Regions from separate parts of the Homo sapiens genome. Here regions 1, 3 and 4 are each linked to region 2. Evidence: fine-mapped expression QTL. A gene starts in region 2. Each other region holds a variant in brackets. All regions are shown on one strand. Distances are between the middles of the regions. Region 1 has its middle 10 kb from the start of ATP9A. Region 2 holds the start of SALL4 (spalt like transcription factor 4). Region 3 has its middle 140 kb from the start of ZFP64. Region 4 holds the start of ATP9A (ATPase phospholipid transporting 9A (putative)).

The links. PIP is the estimated chance that this variant, and not a neighbour inherited with it, causes the effect.
Region 1: its variant is fine-mapped to the expression of SALL4 in whole blood (TOPMed, PIP 0.99). The same link has a PIP of 0.9 or more in blood mononuclear cells.
Region 3: its variant is fine-mapped to the expression of SALL4 in whole blood (TOPMed, PIP 0.98).
Region 4: its variant is fine-mapped to the expression of SALL4 in whole blood (TOPMed, PIP above 0.99).

Annotation. Positions count from the first base shown.
Region 1 is chr20:51,776,767-51,780,928 of GRCh38, reverse strand. No RefSeq gene overlaps it. Among named protein-coding and RNA genes, the nearest start is that of ATP9A, 10 kb to the right of the region's middle. The variant A/G (reference allele first, on the strand shown) is at 2,185.
Region 2 is chr20:51,800,969-51,805,114 of GRCh38, reverse strand. SALL4 (spalt like transcription factor 4) reads left to right here and starts at 2,594. Exons shown (of 4, transcript NM_020436.5): 1 at 2,594-2,836. The coding sequence starts at 2,707. RefSeq lists enhancers at 2,248-2,889, 3,533-4,146.
Region 3 is chr20:52,046,501-52,050,662 of GRCh38, reverse strand. No RefSeq gene overlaps it. Among named protein-coding and RNA genes, the nearest start is that of ZFP64, 140 kb to the left of the region's middle. RefSeq lists enhancers at 735-1,252, 1,253-1,771, 1,772-2,289, 2,290-2,809. The variant C/T (reference allele first, on the strand shown) is at 2,496.
Region 4 is chr20:51,764,676-51,768,812 of GRCh38, reverse strand. ATP9A (ATPase phospholipid transporting 9A (putative)) reads left to right here and starts at 423. Exons shown (of 28, transcript NM_006045.3): 1 at 423-511. The coding sequence starts at 444. The variant C/T (reference allele first, on the strand shown) is at 2,326.

The DNA.
Region 1 (4,162 bases), 24 kb after region 2:
AGATTATGCCCGCATAGTGTGGCCATAACTTTGTTTTGTCAGTTAGAGACCGCATATACAACCATGGTCCCATAAGATTGTAATACTAATTTTTACTGTACCTTTTCTCTGTTTAAATTTGTTTATAGGCCAGGCGCAGTGGCTCACGCCTGTAATCCTAGCTCTTTGGGAGACCAAAGTGGACAAATTACCTGAGCTCAGGAGTTCGAGACCAGCCTGGGCAACACAGTGAAACCCTGTCCCTACTAAAATGCAAAAAAGTAGCTGGCCATGGTGGCATTGCGCCTGTAATCCCAGCTACTGAGGAGACTGAGACAGGAGAATCACTTGAACCTGGGAGGCAGAGATTGCAGTGAACCGAGATCACGCCACTGCACTCCAGCCTAGGCGACAGAGCAAGACTCTGTCTCAAAAAAAAAAAATTAAGTACTGCTTAATTTTTTAACGTCTGCCTCCCGCATTGAAGTGATTCTCCTGCCTCAGCCTCCCGAGTAGCTGGGATTACAGGTGCGCACCACCACACCCAGTTAATTTTTGTATTTTTAGTAGAGACGGAGTTTCACCATGTTGGTCAGGATGGTCTCGAACTTCCAACCTCAGATGATCCACCCGCCTCAGCCTCCCAAAGTGCTGAGATTACAGGCATGAGCCACTGCACCAGGCCCAAGAAGACATCTTCCTAATATAAAAATGCAGCTGGGCGTGGTGGCTCACACCTGTAATCCTCACACTTTGGGAGGCTGAGGGGGGCAGAACACCTGAGGTTGGGAATTCGAGACCAGCCTGACAATCATGGAGAAAAATCCATTTCTACTAAAAATACAAAAGTAGCTGGGCTTGGAGGTGCATGCCTGTAATCCCAGCTACTCGGGAGGCTGAGGCAGGAGAATCACTTGAACATGGGAGGTGGAGGTTGTGGTGAACCAAGATTGTGCCATCGCACTCCAGCCTGGGCAAAAAGAGTGAAACTCTGTCTCAAAGAAAACAAAAAAAAAAAAGCAAGGTAAGGCAGTAAATGCTGATGTAGAAGCTACAGCAAGTTATCCAGAAGATCTAGCTACAATAACTACAGTAGCTACACTAAACAACATATTTTCAAAGTAGACAAGACAGTCTTCTATTGGAAGAAGATGCCATCTAGGACTTTCATAGCTAGAAAGGAAAAAAACACCTTGCTTCAAAGGACAAGGTGACTCCTGTTAGGGGCTAATGCAGGTGGTGACATTAAGCTAAAGCAATGCTCATTTACCATTCTGAAAATCTTAGGGCCTTTAAGAATGATGCTATTTCTACTCTGCATGTGCTCTGGAAATGGAATGACAAAGCCTGGATGATGGCATATCTCATTTTTGTTTTGAGATGGAGTCTCTGTGTCACTCAGGCTGGAGTGCAGTGGCACAATCTCAGTTCACTGCAACCTCTGTCTCCTGGGTTCAAGTGATTCTCTTACCTCAGCCTCCTGAGTAGCTGGGATTACAGGCACCTGCTGCCTTTTGTATTTTTGGTAGAGATGGGGTTTCACCATATTGGTCAGGCTGGTCTCAAACTCCTGACCTCAAGTGATCCACCCGCCTCGGCCTTCCAAAGTTTTGGGATTACAAGTGTGAGCCACCGCGCCCAGTTTAGCATATCTGTTTATCACATGATTTACTGAATATTTTAAGCCCACTGTTGAGACCTACTGCACAGAAAAAAAAAAAAAAAGATTTCTTTCAAAAATTATGGCTGCTCATTAACAATGCATCTAGGCCGGGCGCAGTGGCTCACATCTGTAATCCCAGCACTTTGGGAGGCCGAGGCGGGTGGATCACAAGGTCAGGGGTTCGAGACCAGCCTGACCAACATGGTGAAACCCTGTCTCTACTAAAAACACAAAAATTAGCTGGGCGTGGTCATGGGCGCCTGTAATCCTAGCTACTCAAGAGGCTGAGGCAGGAGAATTGCTTGAACCTGGGAGGCGGAGGTTGCAGTGAGCCGAGATCACGCCACTGCACTCCAGCCTGGGCGACAGAGGAAGACTCCCGTCTCAAAAAACAAAAAAACAATGCATCTAATGCATCTGTCAAGAGCTCTGATGGAAATGTACAAGGAGATTAATACTGAGATTAATACTGTTTTTCATGCCTGTTAACACAACATTCATTTTGTAGTCTGGATCAAGGAGTGGTTTTGTTACTGGTAAGG[A/G]GTCTGGATCCAGACCCTAAGAGAGGATTCTTGGATCTCACGTAAGAAAGAATTCAGGATGAGTCCATAAAGTGAAAGCAAGTTTATTAGGAAAGCAGAGGAATGAAAGAATGGTTAGTCCATAGACAGAGCAGCCCTGAGAGTTGCTGGTTGCCCATTTTTATGGTTATTTCTTGATGATATGCTAAACAAGGGGTGGATTGTTCATGCCTTCCCTTTTTAGACCATACAGGGTAACTTCCTGATGTTGCCATGGCATTTGTAAACTGTCATGGCGCTGGTGGGAGTGTAGCAGTGAGGACAACCAGAGGTCACTCTTGTCGCCATCTTGGTTTTGGTGGGTTTTAGCTGGCTTCTTTACTGCAACTTGTTTTATCAGCAAGGTCTTTATGACCTGTATCTTGTGCTGACCTCCTATCTCATCCTGTGACTAAGAATGCCTTAACCTCCTGGGAATGCAGCCCAGTAGGTCTCAGCTTTATTTTCCCCAGCTCCTGTTCGAGATGGAGTGGCTCTGGTTCAAATGCCTCTAAGAGTTTCAACTTCCAGGTCTTATTATTTCAGAAATACTACATTTTGTAAGCTGCCATAGTTTGTTATTTCTCTGATGGGTCTGGGCAAAGTAAAGTGAAAACCTGGAAAGGATTCACCATTCTAGATGTTGTTAAAAACATTCGTAATTCATGGGAGAAGGTCAAAATATCAACATAAACAGGAGTTTGGAAGAAGTGGCTTCCAACCCTCATGGATGACTTTGATGGGTTCAAGACTTCAGTGAAAGAGCCAGGCACCGTGGCTTATGCCTGTAATCCCAGCACTTTGGGAGGCCGAGGAGGATGGCTTGAGAGCCAGGAGTTCAAGACCAACCCAGTCAACACAGTGAAATCCTGTCTTTACAAACAACAAAATTCAGTGGAGGAAGTAACTGCAGATATGATGGAGATAGCAAGAGAGCTGGAAATAGCAGTGAAGCTTGAAGATGTGACTGAATGGTGGCAATCTTAGGAGAAAACTTGAATGAATAAAGAACTGCTTCTTACAGATGAGCAAAGAAAGTATTTTTTGAGATTGAGACAGAGTCTCGCTCTGTCACCCAGGCTGGAGTGCAGTGGCGCAATCTCAGCTCACTGCAACCTCTGCCTCCCATGTTCAAGTGGTTCTTCTGCCTCAGCTTCCCAAGTAGCTGGGACTACAGGCGTCTGCCACCACGCCCAAGTAATTTTTTTTGTATTTTTAGTAGAGATGGGATTTCACCGTGTTAGCCAGGATGGTCTCGATCTCCTGACCTTGTGATCCACCCGCCTCGGCCTCCCAAAGTGCTGGGATTACAGGCATGAGCCACCGCGCCCGGCCTGTTGTGGGTAAAATATTTTCAGACAGTATCACAAGTTACAAAGAAATCTCAGATAAAGAATCAATATAGCCAACATCATTGTTGTCTTATTTTAAAGAAATTGGCATAGCCATCCCAACCTTCAGCAACCACCACCCTGATCAGTGAACAGCCATCAACATCAAGGTAAGATCCTTCACCGGCAAAAAAATTACGACTCCAGAAGGCTCAGAGGATCATTAACATCTTTAACAATAAAGGAATTTATAATTAAGGTATGTACGTTGTTTTTTTTTTTGGTTTGTTTTTTGTTTTTCCCGAGATGGAGTCTCACTCTGTCTCCCAGGCTGGAGTACACTGGTGCGATCTTGGCTCACTGCAACCTCTGCCTCCCAGGTTCAAGCAATTCTCCTGCCTCAGCCTCCCGAATAGCTGGGATTACAGGTGCCTGCCACTATGCCCAGCTAATTTTTTGTATTTTTAGTAGAGATGGGGTTTCACCATGATGGCCAGGCTGGTCTCGAAGTCCTGACCTCATGATTCGCCTGCCTCAGCCTCCCAAAGTGCTGGGATTATAGGCGTGAGCCACCGTGGCCGGCCTGTACATTGTTTTTTAGATGTAATGCTATTACACACTTAACAGGA
Region 2 (4,146 bases):
CCACAACCAGCTAATTTTTGTATTTTTAGTAGAGATGGAGTTTTACCGTGTTGGCCAGGCTAGTCTCGAACTCCTGACCTCTGGTGACCCGCCAGTCTTGGCCTCCCAGAGTGCTGGGATTACAGGCGTGAGACACTGTGCTCAGCCTGAAACAACTTTTGATTACGGACTTGCCTGTTGCTATGCCCTCCGTTCATCCCCTGCTTTGCTCTAGGACTTACTTTATTTTCCACCAACTGGCTCCTGGCTGCAGCTGTTAAACTGGGGGTAGATTCAAAACATGTACTGTGTCCTGCTTTTCTTGATATGACATTTGTGGAAGGTTTCCATTTGAGGGAAACTTCTTGACTTCATCTGTTGGAGTGATTTCTGAAGACCCAAGATTTTTCTAGGACACTTTAAATTTAGTTTACTGTACTCCGATTTTTCTTCTTTAGCTATCTTCTCTATATTCAGCTATAGTTGGAAGACAGGTATTAGGATGTGATAGAATTTTGGAGTCAGACTTAGAAACTGACCACCGGCTTAGAAACTGACCACCAGCTCAGCCAGTTTCTAATTAAGTCACTTCATGTCTTTGAGCCTCAGTTTCAAAATGGAGAGGACAATAGGGCCAACCTCCATGGGAAGATAAAACAAGGCGGTGTGCATTCATTTAATGCAGTCTGTGGCATGTACAAGGGGCTCAATCAATTATTATTATTACTATCACTTGGAGAGTCAAGCGGCACAATTTTGTCTCGTAGTAAGGCTAACATGTTACAACTATCATCTACTAAAATAAATATAAACAACTATATAAATGAAATTTTCCTTAACCCAATAGTATTTTTTGAGCCATAAACCCACTGCACATTCGTTTAGATTTGTAAGTTAGATCTCCTGCCACACTATCTTACACAGAAAAGGTGTTGAGAATATTAGTAGATTAGTCAGCAAGGCAGGTGCTAATTGGCCTTTTTACTCAGTATCAGAATTCTAAACTGCTTCTATGTATTATTAAACCAAATTCTTACCTTTTCAATCTGGCTGTTGGCTATAATTCTGTCTTACTTGCTTTAAATATTATACATAAAATAAGGCAAGACTTTTTCAGAGACTCAAAAATTGAAGGTTAATCTTCCTTCAACAAGTTTTTACTGATGGCCACGAATATAAAAAAGATGATCAAGCTGATTTATTTTCTGCCTTGGGTTGTCCAAATACCCAGGTGAACACATTGATGAGCCCAGCATTCCATTTTGCTTGTATTCCTGATGAGTTTACAAGCTGGGAACGTGATGAATAACTAATCAAGAGAATGCAATGCACAAATGTGGAGGGAGGGTTTATATCTGCACAGTCCCTTACAATGAAGTAAATGCCAAACAAAGACGCATGCCCAGAGCAGTTATGGAAAGACCAATCAAAGACTTAGCAGGTTGATGATTTCATCATTCATTTAACATTTATTGAGCATGTACATTGTGTAAAGCAGTTAGCCAAATTAAGTATACATGAATTTACGGTATAAATGTGTATACATGTAATATATCATATACACACACACAAGCCCCACTTTAAAAAATTCCAGGCATCATGTGTCAATGATACAATCACTTTGAACGATACACCTTTTCTGTAATAATGTGTGTATTGCACAAAAAAATTCCAATAGTGATTAGTAACAACCAGATACTGTGACAGTGCCCCATTGCCATTCCATGGGAGATGCAAGAGCATTGTCTCAGTAATAAAATATGATGTTATCAGGCATTTATGGCTCCTGGGGAAAAAAATGCAATTGCTTGCTGTTTTGATATTATCTCTGACTATGCTTGCTTATCATTTGCCATTTCTATATTTAGTAGCCAGTCATTTTGAAGTTAAAAAAAAATCAAGGTTTGCATTGTAACCACAAACCAGTCTTTGTGAACAGGAATCCTGGAGGCTATTAATCAGCTTTTAAAGGAGGTAAGTCATGGTGGTGGTGGGGTATCTGAAATTTTGGAAGTTCCGAGCTCACTTTAAGAGTTGAGATGGGTGGGAGGGCTGAAAACACCACCATTCATCATTCTTCAGTTATCTCGAGACTCAACTTAAACATTTTTAATCAAAAAGATGGGAGGGGACACGGGTCACATCTCAGGTTTGGGGGAATGTGTGTGCGTGTAGATGTGAAAACTGAGCCAAAATATTCCACTGTGAAGAGATCTCCCTTCTCGGCTGGTGGACATCAACCTTACCAAGTAATCTTTGGAGCAAGTAACTACCAAATAAAGCCGTTCCAAAACTTCTACGTAAGCTCCTACTTTTTAATGAGTACGCATTTCTCCCCATTTTCTTTTCCTCTCCAAGGACTGAGATAGCTGGAGCAAGGATGGGTCCCCCTCTGATTTCGTCCCCGCCCCAGCCAATCTGAGCCCGGATGCTAATTAGCTGCGCTCCCCTGATGAACACGCCTTTGTCACAAGTAGGCCCGGACTACAAAGCCCAGAATGCCTCACCCCTCCCTGATCAATGAGGGCTTATTTAAATGATCTCTGAGGTCTTGGACCCAGGCCAATCAGCTGTCAGGGCTCATGATAAATCGCAATGCATTATTGATAATAATAATTACTGGGACATGCGCGTTCCGGCCGAAGGGGGGTAAATTTCCCAACTCCAGGAATTTGTGGCGGAGAGGGCAAATAACTGCGGCTCTCCCGGCGCCCCGATGCTCGCACCATGTCGAGGCGCAAGCAGGCGAAACCCCAGCACATCAACTCGGAGGAGGACCAGGGCGAGCAGCAGCCGCAGCAGCAGACCCCGGAGTTTGCAGATGCGGCCCCAGCGGCGCCCGCGGCGGGGGAGCTGGGTGAGTGGGGCTGGGGCGCCCGCCCGGGGAGGGGAGCTTCCCGGACGTACGCGGGATCCTCGAGGGCGCAGGCTTCGGGGAGCGGGCGGCGTCCAGCGCAAATTCAGGAGCCGAGATTTGGGGGCTCAGTGCCCGGGAGGAGAGGTCTCCTCCTCTCCCCACCACCCCGCCTTTTGCACATTTCACACTTTTTTCCTCTTCTCCCCTCTTGTGTAAGTTTCACCCCCAGCTTTCTCCCCTAATTGTAAAATTGACCCCCACTCGCTCCTCTGTTCTCGCTCCCGAAAGGTTCCCTTCTCCTTGTCCTCTGCCCCTCACTTAATTGGTTCCACTCCCCTCACTGGTGTTACCCCCCCCCCTTGTAACTTAGGTCCCCCTCCCTCGCGTCGCTCTCAAAAGAAAGAACCCCGGGGGATCCCCACCCTCTCCACCAGCCCCTTGGGGCTTTTCTTGGAGGCTGGAGGAGGGGCGCACCCCTGGAAGACCCCCCGGAGGAGGACGATCTGTTGCACGCGCCCCTCCCGGGCCAAGTGGGGGGAGGGGGCGCGACCTCTCCCCACCCTCAGGAGCTGGGGTGCGGGCCACCCGCGCTGCGCAGGGGATTGGAGGGCCCAGAGAGGTGGGGGAGGAGGGCTCAATGTTTCCCTTTAAAATTTTTTTCTTTTCTGGATTTCGCCTTTTCTGCCCGGGCTGCGCCGCCTGCCGATCTTCGCCCTAACCTTTCGGGGCCTGACCTCCAGCCATCTTTGATTTCCGACTTCCTAAAAATAACCGCGGCAAGCCCGAGGGTGCGAGCCCCCAGTGGCCGGGGTGGCGGGCGCGCGGCAGCCCCACTGGGGTGCACCGGCCTCCCGTTTTGCGTGGCTTTTCTGGAGCGCTCGGCTTTCCACATTTGCGCTTGGGTGTGAAAGGGGAGAGGTGGGGGGCCAGAGCGAACTCCCGCGGCTGACCTGGCCCACGCTTCCGCGGCCAGCGTTTCCCAGATCGAGGGGAGTTCGGGACCCCAGCCGCGCCAGGAACGGCGGGGCCAACTCTGTTCCCACTTCATCACTTCACCGCGGAGGTTTTAGGAGCGAGGCGGTTTTCCACTATCTCGTCTCCATCCCGGCCCGCCAAATTGTCGCCTGATAAGTTTTTAGCGTGCGCGTGGGGGGAGGGGGGATTTGTAGCCTCCTCTCCGGCCTTGTTCGTCGCTCCGCTCCCCGCCTGCTTTCTAATTTCCCTGCAGCAGACGGGTGTGCGCGGCAACCCCGGAGGACTCTCAGAGACCATCTCTGATACCCGGGGTTTCCCGAGAAGACGGTCGCCAC
Region 3 (4,162 bases), 250 kb before region 2:
CTCAGACCTCCATCTTTTTTATTGATAATATTTCCACCCAGGAAAGAAGCACATCTTCCAATTACTTGCACAAAGGCAAAGAGTGAAAAGCCATGGATATTCCTAAAGAAGAAAGTCTCAATCTCCTTACAAATAGAGGCAAAGTAAAAAAGGAAGAAGAGGAGAAAGAGGAGGAGGAAGGAGGAGGAAGGGGAGAAGCAGAAGGAGAAGAGGAAGAAGGGAAAAAAGTATAAGGAGGAAGAGAAGGAAAAGAAGATAAAGGAGAAGGAAGATAAGAAGAAGAATTGGAGGAGGAAGATTTATTTATTTTTGAGACGGAGTCTCACACTGTCGTCCAGGCTGGAGTGCAGTGGCATGATCTCCACTCACTGCAACCTCTGCCTCCTGGGTTCAAGCGATTCTCCTGCCTCAGCTTCCCAGGTAGCTGGGATTAGAGGCATGCGCCACCATGCCCAGCTAATTTTTTGTATTTTTCCTAGAGACGGGGTTTCACCATGTTGGCCAGGCTGGTCTCGAACTCCTGACCTCGTGATCCGCCTGCCTCAGCCTCCCAAAGTGCTGGGATTATAGGCGTGAGCCACCATGCCCAGCCAGGAGGAGGAAGATTAAAAGAGGAGGCCGGGCATGGTGGCTCACGCCTGTAATCCCAGTACTATGGGAGGCTGAGGTGGGTGGATCACTTGAGGTCAGGAGTTCGAGACTGGCCTGGCCAACATGGTGAAACCCTGTCTCTACTAAAAATACAAAAATTACCCCAGCATGGTGGCACTCGCCTGTAATCCCAGCTACTTGGGAGGCTGAGTCAGGAGAATCGCTTGAACCCGGGAGGCTGAGGTTGGAAGGAGCCAAGATCACACCACTGCACTCCAGCCTGGGCAAGAGAATAAGACTTCGTCTCAAAAAAAAGAAAAAAAAAAAAAGAGGGAAGAGGAATTAGAAGAAGAAGAAAAGGAGGGAAAAGGAGGAGGGGAAGAGGGGAGAAGAAAAAGGAGTGGTAGTGGGAGGAGCTGAGAAAGGAGCAGAGGAGGGTGGGTGAAGGAGTAGGAGAAGGGCTCTGACCCCTACTGAGTTCTTATCAGTCTCCTCGACCTTAATTGCCTCCCTCCCTTTTGGCTTTTACCAGTTACACCAGTTACTGCGCTTTCTTTCATGGTGAAAAGAAGGACCAGAGTTGCTGTCACCACCTCCTTTTCAGAGTGAGCCTTCTAAGAGCTGAGGCCGAGTGAGCCTTCTAAGAGCTGAGGCCTTTGGCTCTCTCTCCTGTAGCACACTGGCCAGGCCCTGGAGCTCAGGCTGTCGCTGATCACACCCAGCTCTTGAGAGCAAACTGACCACCCTCTCCAAGGGACCCACCTGGAAACTTCTGCGATCCATTCTATTCGTTCAGACTGTAGGCTGAGAGTCCCTTTAAACTGCACTGGGCTGCTATCTCTTAGCATGTATGATTTGAGTGTTCCTTTAAGTGCTCTACAAAAGCCAGAAAGCAGGCAGGGGAAATCCTAGGTCTAAGAAATTAGGAAAGCTTTCTATTTTTGTTGGGTAAGTTTGATTCTGCAAATCATTTTATAAAAATACACTGAGAAAGTAGTCTAGCACACTTGCTACATTTTTAACATTCCTAAAGTTGCCCACAGTACTTAAAAAAAAAAAAAACGGTTTGTGTCACTTTCAATTGGGGCTAAAAGATCTTTTTGTTTGTTTTCTTGTCTTTAAAAATACTGATACCTGCATCTAATTTCTTGCCAAAAAATACGAATAAAAATACTGATTCAATAAGGAGGGCTGGGGTCTTTTTTCCAGATTAGATTTTAATTTTAAACTCAGGTCCACTATTCTGACGCGCCAGGACAAATAACTGTATGTGAGCCTATAAATTAACTTCCCTTAATTCCATCACTGATGAATTTTCATGTCGATAAGCCCCCCAAAAAGGAGGGAGGAGGGTCCCCTGTAACCAAACATAAGTCAGTTTACAAAGGAGTTCGGGGGACTTGGGGACACTGACTCCTCTTCAGAATTGCCTAAAGAGACTGGCCATTGACAATTTAAATCTTCAGTGCTTTATCTCTTTGTTTGAGTCTTGGAATGCCATTGATACCTTCTTTGTATTTATAATTGTTTTAATTAGCTACCCAGCGGGGGCCTCTCTCCCAGCTTGGATTATGGGCTGCACAGCGGGACAGGACAACCCAGTTAAAATAAAGCACAGACATTATGGCTCGCTTAATTTCTTTTATCTGTGTCCATTTTTTTTTCTCTTATTCCCCCTCATTTTCATCCTCTTTTTTCTTTTTTTCTTTTTTCTCCCCCTTGTTGTCTGTGGAAGGCAGGGGCAAAAAGCCTTGACACCTTGAATGGCTTAGCTTTTGAAGAATCAAAGTATGGAAAAAACTCAACCATGGATATTTATCAGCAGTTCACATCTCAGCGGAAAAAAGAAATATCGCCGATGTGCTTGTCCACTGCGTTTGATAACATTTCATAAGCCTCAAACG[C/T]GATCATATCTTGAGCGATTATGCTGACATGTACGTCGGTTGCCTGACTTTTGTGGGTGGAGTGAGGGGAAAGTTTGCAAAAAAGCTTCTCTCCGCGGCCCCTGTGTTATTTGTTCTTACTGACCACATCCTTCTTTTGTGGGTGGAAATCTGGAGGATCAATTATGATGCAGATCTGATACTATTTCCATTTGTGGGAGCGGTGTGGCCCGGGCGTTTGGACTTTGGGAAATTCTTGCATTGTTAAAATGGGTTTTCCCCCCACTTTGAACTCAGTGATGCTACTGGTGTGATCACACACACAAAAAAACTGCCTGGCCAGAGCTTTTTCTAAGAACATACAGAAATGCAGGGCTTGTTTGTAGCTTCAAAGAATAGCCAGGATTTCTCTTTTTTTGTGAATCTCTAACTACCTGTCTGGAAGCTAAAGCAGGGCGGGGGTTTGGGTGAAAACAGTCATTATTTTAAAAAGTAATCCTCCTACACTATGATGCAAATAATGGAGTTTTAATTTTTTTCTAATAATACCCCCAAAGAACTTATTTGCATTTGAAAAGAAATGATAGTTCAAATTATCAGTATAGGAAAAGCTTTGAACTGTCTTCTATAATTCAGTGCACTTATAAGTATTAAATGTTATAGAGCCCAAATTTATTCTGGAAATTTTCAACAGTAAGCATTGAATCTATCCCCCATCAAACAACCTGACAAAGGGCAGAGGAGATTATTTTGAGTTTGTATGTAAATATTCAGGGCGAGGTGGCTCATTCCTGTAAACCCAGCACTTTGGGAGGTTGAGGCGGGCGCATCACTTGAGGTCAGGAATTCAAGACCAGCCTGGGCAACATGGCAAAACCTCGTCTCCACCAAAAATTAGCTGGGCATGGTGGCGTGCACCTGGAATCCCAGCTATTGGGAGGCTGAGGTGGGAGGATCACTTGAGCCTGAGAGGTCGACGCTGCAGTGAGCCATGATTGCACCACTGCATTCTAGCCTGGGCGACAAAGTGAAACCCTGTCTCAAATAAATAAGCAAACAAACAGAATCTGGGGGCCTTTAAAACCAAGTATGGTTATAATTAAAATTTTCTCATTATCTGGATTATTTTTGGCTTTGTAACCAATCAGAGACCCAGACATTTACTTGCTGTATAAACCAGCCACATATCAAAGAGACTGTGAATTAAGACCCATAGCAATTTGTTTAGTGTGTTATAAAGCTTTGAAATTCAACGACAAGATGTAGAAGAGGCAGGAAACCCAGTATGAGCCAGAGGCCTAGGGTTGGGAAAATCTTCAGGAGCCAAGTGTCCTTGAGGGACACTAAATGACTATACGATAAAATAGCAAAGCCCATCGTGCCCAGAGCCCTGTGCAATGTACATGTTTGTGAAGATAATCCAGCTTGGGGGCTGTGCAACATCATGAATGACTAAGTGTCTCTTAATTGTATACTTTAAGATGGTTGATTTTGTTAAGTGAATTTGACCTCAATACAAAAAATAAAATGAGACAATCTTTTAAAAAATGTACATATATAATTAAGATTTGGAAATTACTTTAAAGATGTTTGCGATTTTTTTAAATTTTTTTTTTCCATTTTCACATGCATTTTCTTACTTATTCGTCAAAGGATAGGAACTCTTTGGGATCAATATTTTGAATACT
Region 4 (4,137 bases), 36 kb after region 2:
TGTGATTGTGAATGTGGGATTTTGCGGGGGGTGCGGTGGCAGGGTGCGCGCACGGCGGGCGTGGGCGGGGGGCGCGTGGCCGGGTGGGCGCGCGTGGGGGGCGCGGGCGCGGGCCGGGGGCGGGGACACTGCAGCGGTCGCGGCGGCGCGGACACGGCCCGGCCGCCCCCCGTGGCAGGCGCGGCGCGGCGCGGAGCGAGCGGGCGCAGCGCGGAGCTCGGGCCCATGGTGCGCCCGTGTCCGTCGGTCGGGCCGCGCGGGCGCTCCGCGCGTGGCCCGGCGCTCGCGAGCTCGCCCCCTCGCTGCGGGCCCGGCCCGCCCGCTGCCGCCGCCTCCTCCCCCGGGGCGGCGCGGCGCCGGCGGGCGGCGGCGCGGAGGCCGGACCGGGCGGCGGCCCAGGCGGCGCGGGGGGCGCGGCGGCCAAGGCGGGCGGCGCCGCCGACATGACGGACAACATCCCGCTGCAGCCGGTGCGCCAGAAGAAGCGGATGGACAGCAGGCCCCGCGCCGGGTGAGTGGGCCTGGGCCCGTGTTTTCCTTTGTCCGCGCCTCCCGGAGCCCGGCGCTCGGGCCAGCCTGGCCGGGCCTGACAGGTTGGCCGCGCGCCGCGCCCGGCGCCATGAGCCTGGGGCAGGGCTGGGGAGGCGGGGAGGTGGGGAGGGGGTCCCTGCGCTTCAGCCCCGGGCGGCACCTAGCCTGATGCCGGCCCTTTGGGGTTCGAGCGCCCGGTTGCCTGGGCCTCCTTGCCCACCTTCCTTTAGAAACCCCGAGAAGCCGGGCCCGCCCCAGTGCTGTTTACACACTCGCGGAATTCGGATCAGCCGTGCTTTCTCACCGTTTTATTGTTCCGTAATTAATATCTGTCCGTAATTAATATCTGAGGTAACAATTTGGTCAGTGTCACACCGAGCTCTGCGCTTGGAGCATTACTCGGGAGCCCAGATATGCTCAGCTTTTAGGGGGGCGCGGCCTACGCCTCGGGGTACCCCATCAGCGCCCCTGGGTCCCAGCCCCAGGAGGCTGCGCCGAGACCACCTGCGCTCCGGTGGCCCCTTCCCCCTCCGCCCGGGGTGGACCCGAACCAGCAGTCGCAGGAGGGTGGGAGGGTCTCCTACTGGCCGCTTGGTGACACTACCCCTTGTGTTCTCCCCCCACAATTTCGGGGAAGGAATCCCACGGCTGGGACAGGGGCTGCCACCTGCTGTGCCCTTCCCGCAGTAGGAGACCCCGAGGGCAGCTTAGGCGCGGAACAGGCAAGGGTTTTTCTGCATTTGGGAAGAGGGGACGGGTTGGTATTTTGCGCCTCGCCGTCTTCCTGTTCGGAGGATGGCAGCGTGACGCGTTGAGGTTTGCGGGGCTCTCGTATCGCCTGCCATAGACTTACCTGGGCGTGAGGGGCGGGGGTGGGAAGGACGGGGGTGGGCGCTGGTGCAAATGCAGATTTCCCGGCCCCCGCCTAGACCCGCCAATCAGAGTTCTGGGGGGCGGGGCCTGGAGATGTGCAGCTCCACAGGCCGCGCAGGTGAGGCTGGAGCCCGCGGGAGGCTGAGCGCGGTGTTGGGCGGGGCCTGCGGCCGCTCTGCTCCGCCCTTCCTCGGGCGTCTGGTCCTCTCTGGGCATTTCCCGGTGGCGGCCGCTTATTGCAGCGTCAGTTGCTCGGAACAGGAGACGCGGCGGGTGGAGTGAACCATAAGGGTGGCTTCACCAGGTGTCAGTGGAATTAAAAAAAAAAAAAAAAAGAATGGTGCTGGCGGCCATTTTGTGGGGTCTTTGTCCCTGGCTTCCTGAATCCTCCGAAGAAGAGGCCTCACTGATATTACCCAGAGGAGGAAACTGGAGGTTACGGAGGTTAAGGGCTATAGGGAAGACTGCAAAATGGAGATTGAACTCCGGATTGTCTGACCCAAAGATAGTTCCCTCACTCCTCCCTTCTCTGTTTTGCGTTTATTATTATTAGTATTATTATTATTATTGAGACGGAGTCTCCCTCTGTTGCCCACGCTGGAGTGCTGTGGCGAGATCTCGGCTCACTGCAACCTCCGCCTCCCGGGTTCAAGCAATTCTCTGCCTCAACCTCCCGAGTAGCTGGGATTACAGGCGCCCGACACCACGCCTGACTAGTTTTTGTATTTTTAGTAGAGACGGGGGTTTCACCATCTTGGCCAGGCTTGTCTTGAACTCCTGACCTCGTGATCCACCCACCTCGGCCTTCCAAAGTGCTGGGATTACAGGCGTGAGTCACCGCGCCCGGCCTCCTTCGTTTTAATGATGACAATTGACTTGAACACTATGCCTGGAACAGTGCCTGGTACATCGTACATCCTC[C/T]GTAAATACTGTGATGAATTAATATGATCAGTGGAGTCTAAAATCCAGTGGTTATTAATTTGTGCCATGAGCAATTATGAGACGCCTACTATGTGCAGGAGCCACTCCAGCTGATGGGGATGCAAGGATGAATTAAAGAAGACCTGCCCAACAGGTGTGGGTGTCCTGACCCTGGCTGTTCATTGCAATCACCAGGGAAACTTAACTAGCCTTTTCTGATTCATTCTAGACCTTTGAAATAAGAATTTAGGGTGGGACCTGGGTTTCTATCTATATATTTTAATAAGCTCCCCTGATGATTTTAACATGCAGTCAGAGTTGAGAACTTTTGAGTCAGTACATGAAAGAAAAATGCAAATATTGTTCAAAAGTGATCATTAGCGTGATAGAAACATGAGCCGTTCATATGGAGAGCCAGAGGGAGTGGTGCAGATAATTTTATTTAAAAGTAAGTTTTCTAGGTTGCGTTGGAATGGAGCATCACAGCCCCTTTAGAATTTACCAGCTTTGGAACTAATCTTTCTTTTTTTTTGAGACGATGTAGTTTCACTCTTGTTGCCTGGAGTGCAATGCCTTGGTCTTGGCCCACTGCAACCTCTGCCTCCTGGGTTCAAGCGATTCTTCTGCCTCAGCTTCCCAAGTAGCTGGGATTACAGGTGCCCACTACCACTCCCGGCTAATCTTTGTATTTTTAGTAGAGAGAGTTGTTTCACCATGTTGGCCAGGCTGGTCTTGAACTCCTGACCTCAGGTGATCCACCTGCCTTGGCCTCCGAAAGTGCTGGGATTACAGACGTGAGCCACCGTGCTTGGCCTGGAACTAATCTAATTCTGTTTTTTTTTTTTGAGATGTAGCTTCACTCTTGTTGCCAAGGCTGGCACGATCTCGGCTCACTGCAACGTCCGCATTCCAGGTTCAAGCGATTCTCCTTGAATCAGCCTCCTGAGTAGCTGGGATTACAGGCATGCACCATGCCCGGCAAATTTTGTATTTTTAGTACAGATGGGGTTTCTCCATGTTGGTCAGGCTGGTCTCGAACTCCTTACCTCAGGTGATCCACCCACCTTGGCCTCCCAAAGTGCTGTGATTACAGATGTGAGCCACTGTGTCTGGCCAATCTATTTCTTAAACAGTGACATGGATTTGGATTCAAATTGTGTATCAGGGTTGCTGTGCATTTGCGTAAATGCTCTTGTATATAATCTGCATTTTCAGGAGTAGCAACATCAAGGTGGAATCCTGAAGTTTAGAAACTCTTGAGAAGCACAGAGAGATGGAGGAGCTTCCTGAAATAGAACTAGGGGCTGGGGGATGGCAGCGTGAGGGCTAAAGTGGGTGGGTGGTTAAAGGAAGAAAAAAGTAATATGTAATGGGTCAGGCTGTCTGCTGGACACTTGAGATAAATAGGGCTGTTTTAATCCTTACAACAACCATGTGAGTTTTTGGAGTTAATTCTCCCATTTTAGGGGCCAGATGTGGTGGTTCAAGCCTGTAATCCCAGCACTTTGGGAGGCCAAGGTGGGCGGATCACTCGAGGTCAGGAGTTCGAGACCAGCCTGGCCAACATGGTGAAACCCTGTCTCTACTAAAAATACAAAAATTAGCCGGGTGTGGTGGTGGTGCCTGTAATTCCAGCTACTGGGGAGGCTGAGGCAGGAGAATTGCTTGAACCCAGGATGTGGAGGTTGCGGTGAGTCAGGATTGTACCACTGCACTCCAGCCTGGGTGAAGAAGCAAGACTCCATCTCAAAAAAAAAAATTCTCCCATTTTATTGACAGGGAAACAAAGATTCACTGATATTAATGTGTTCG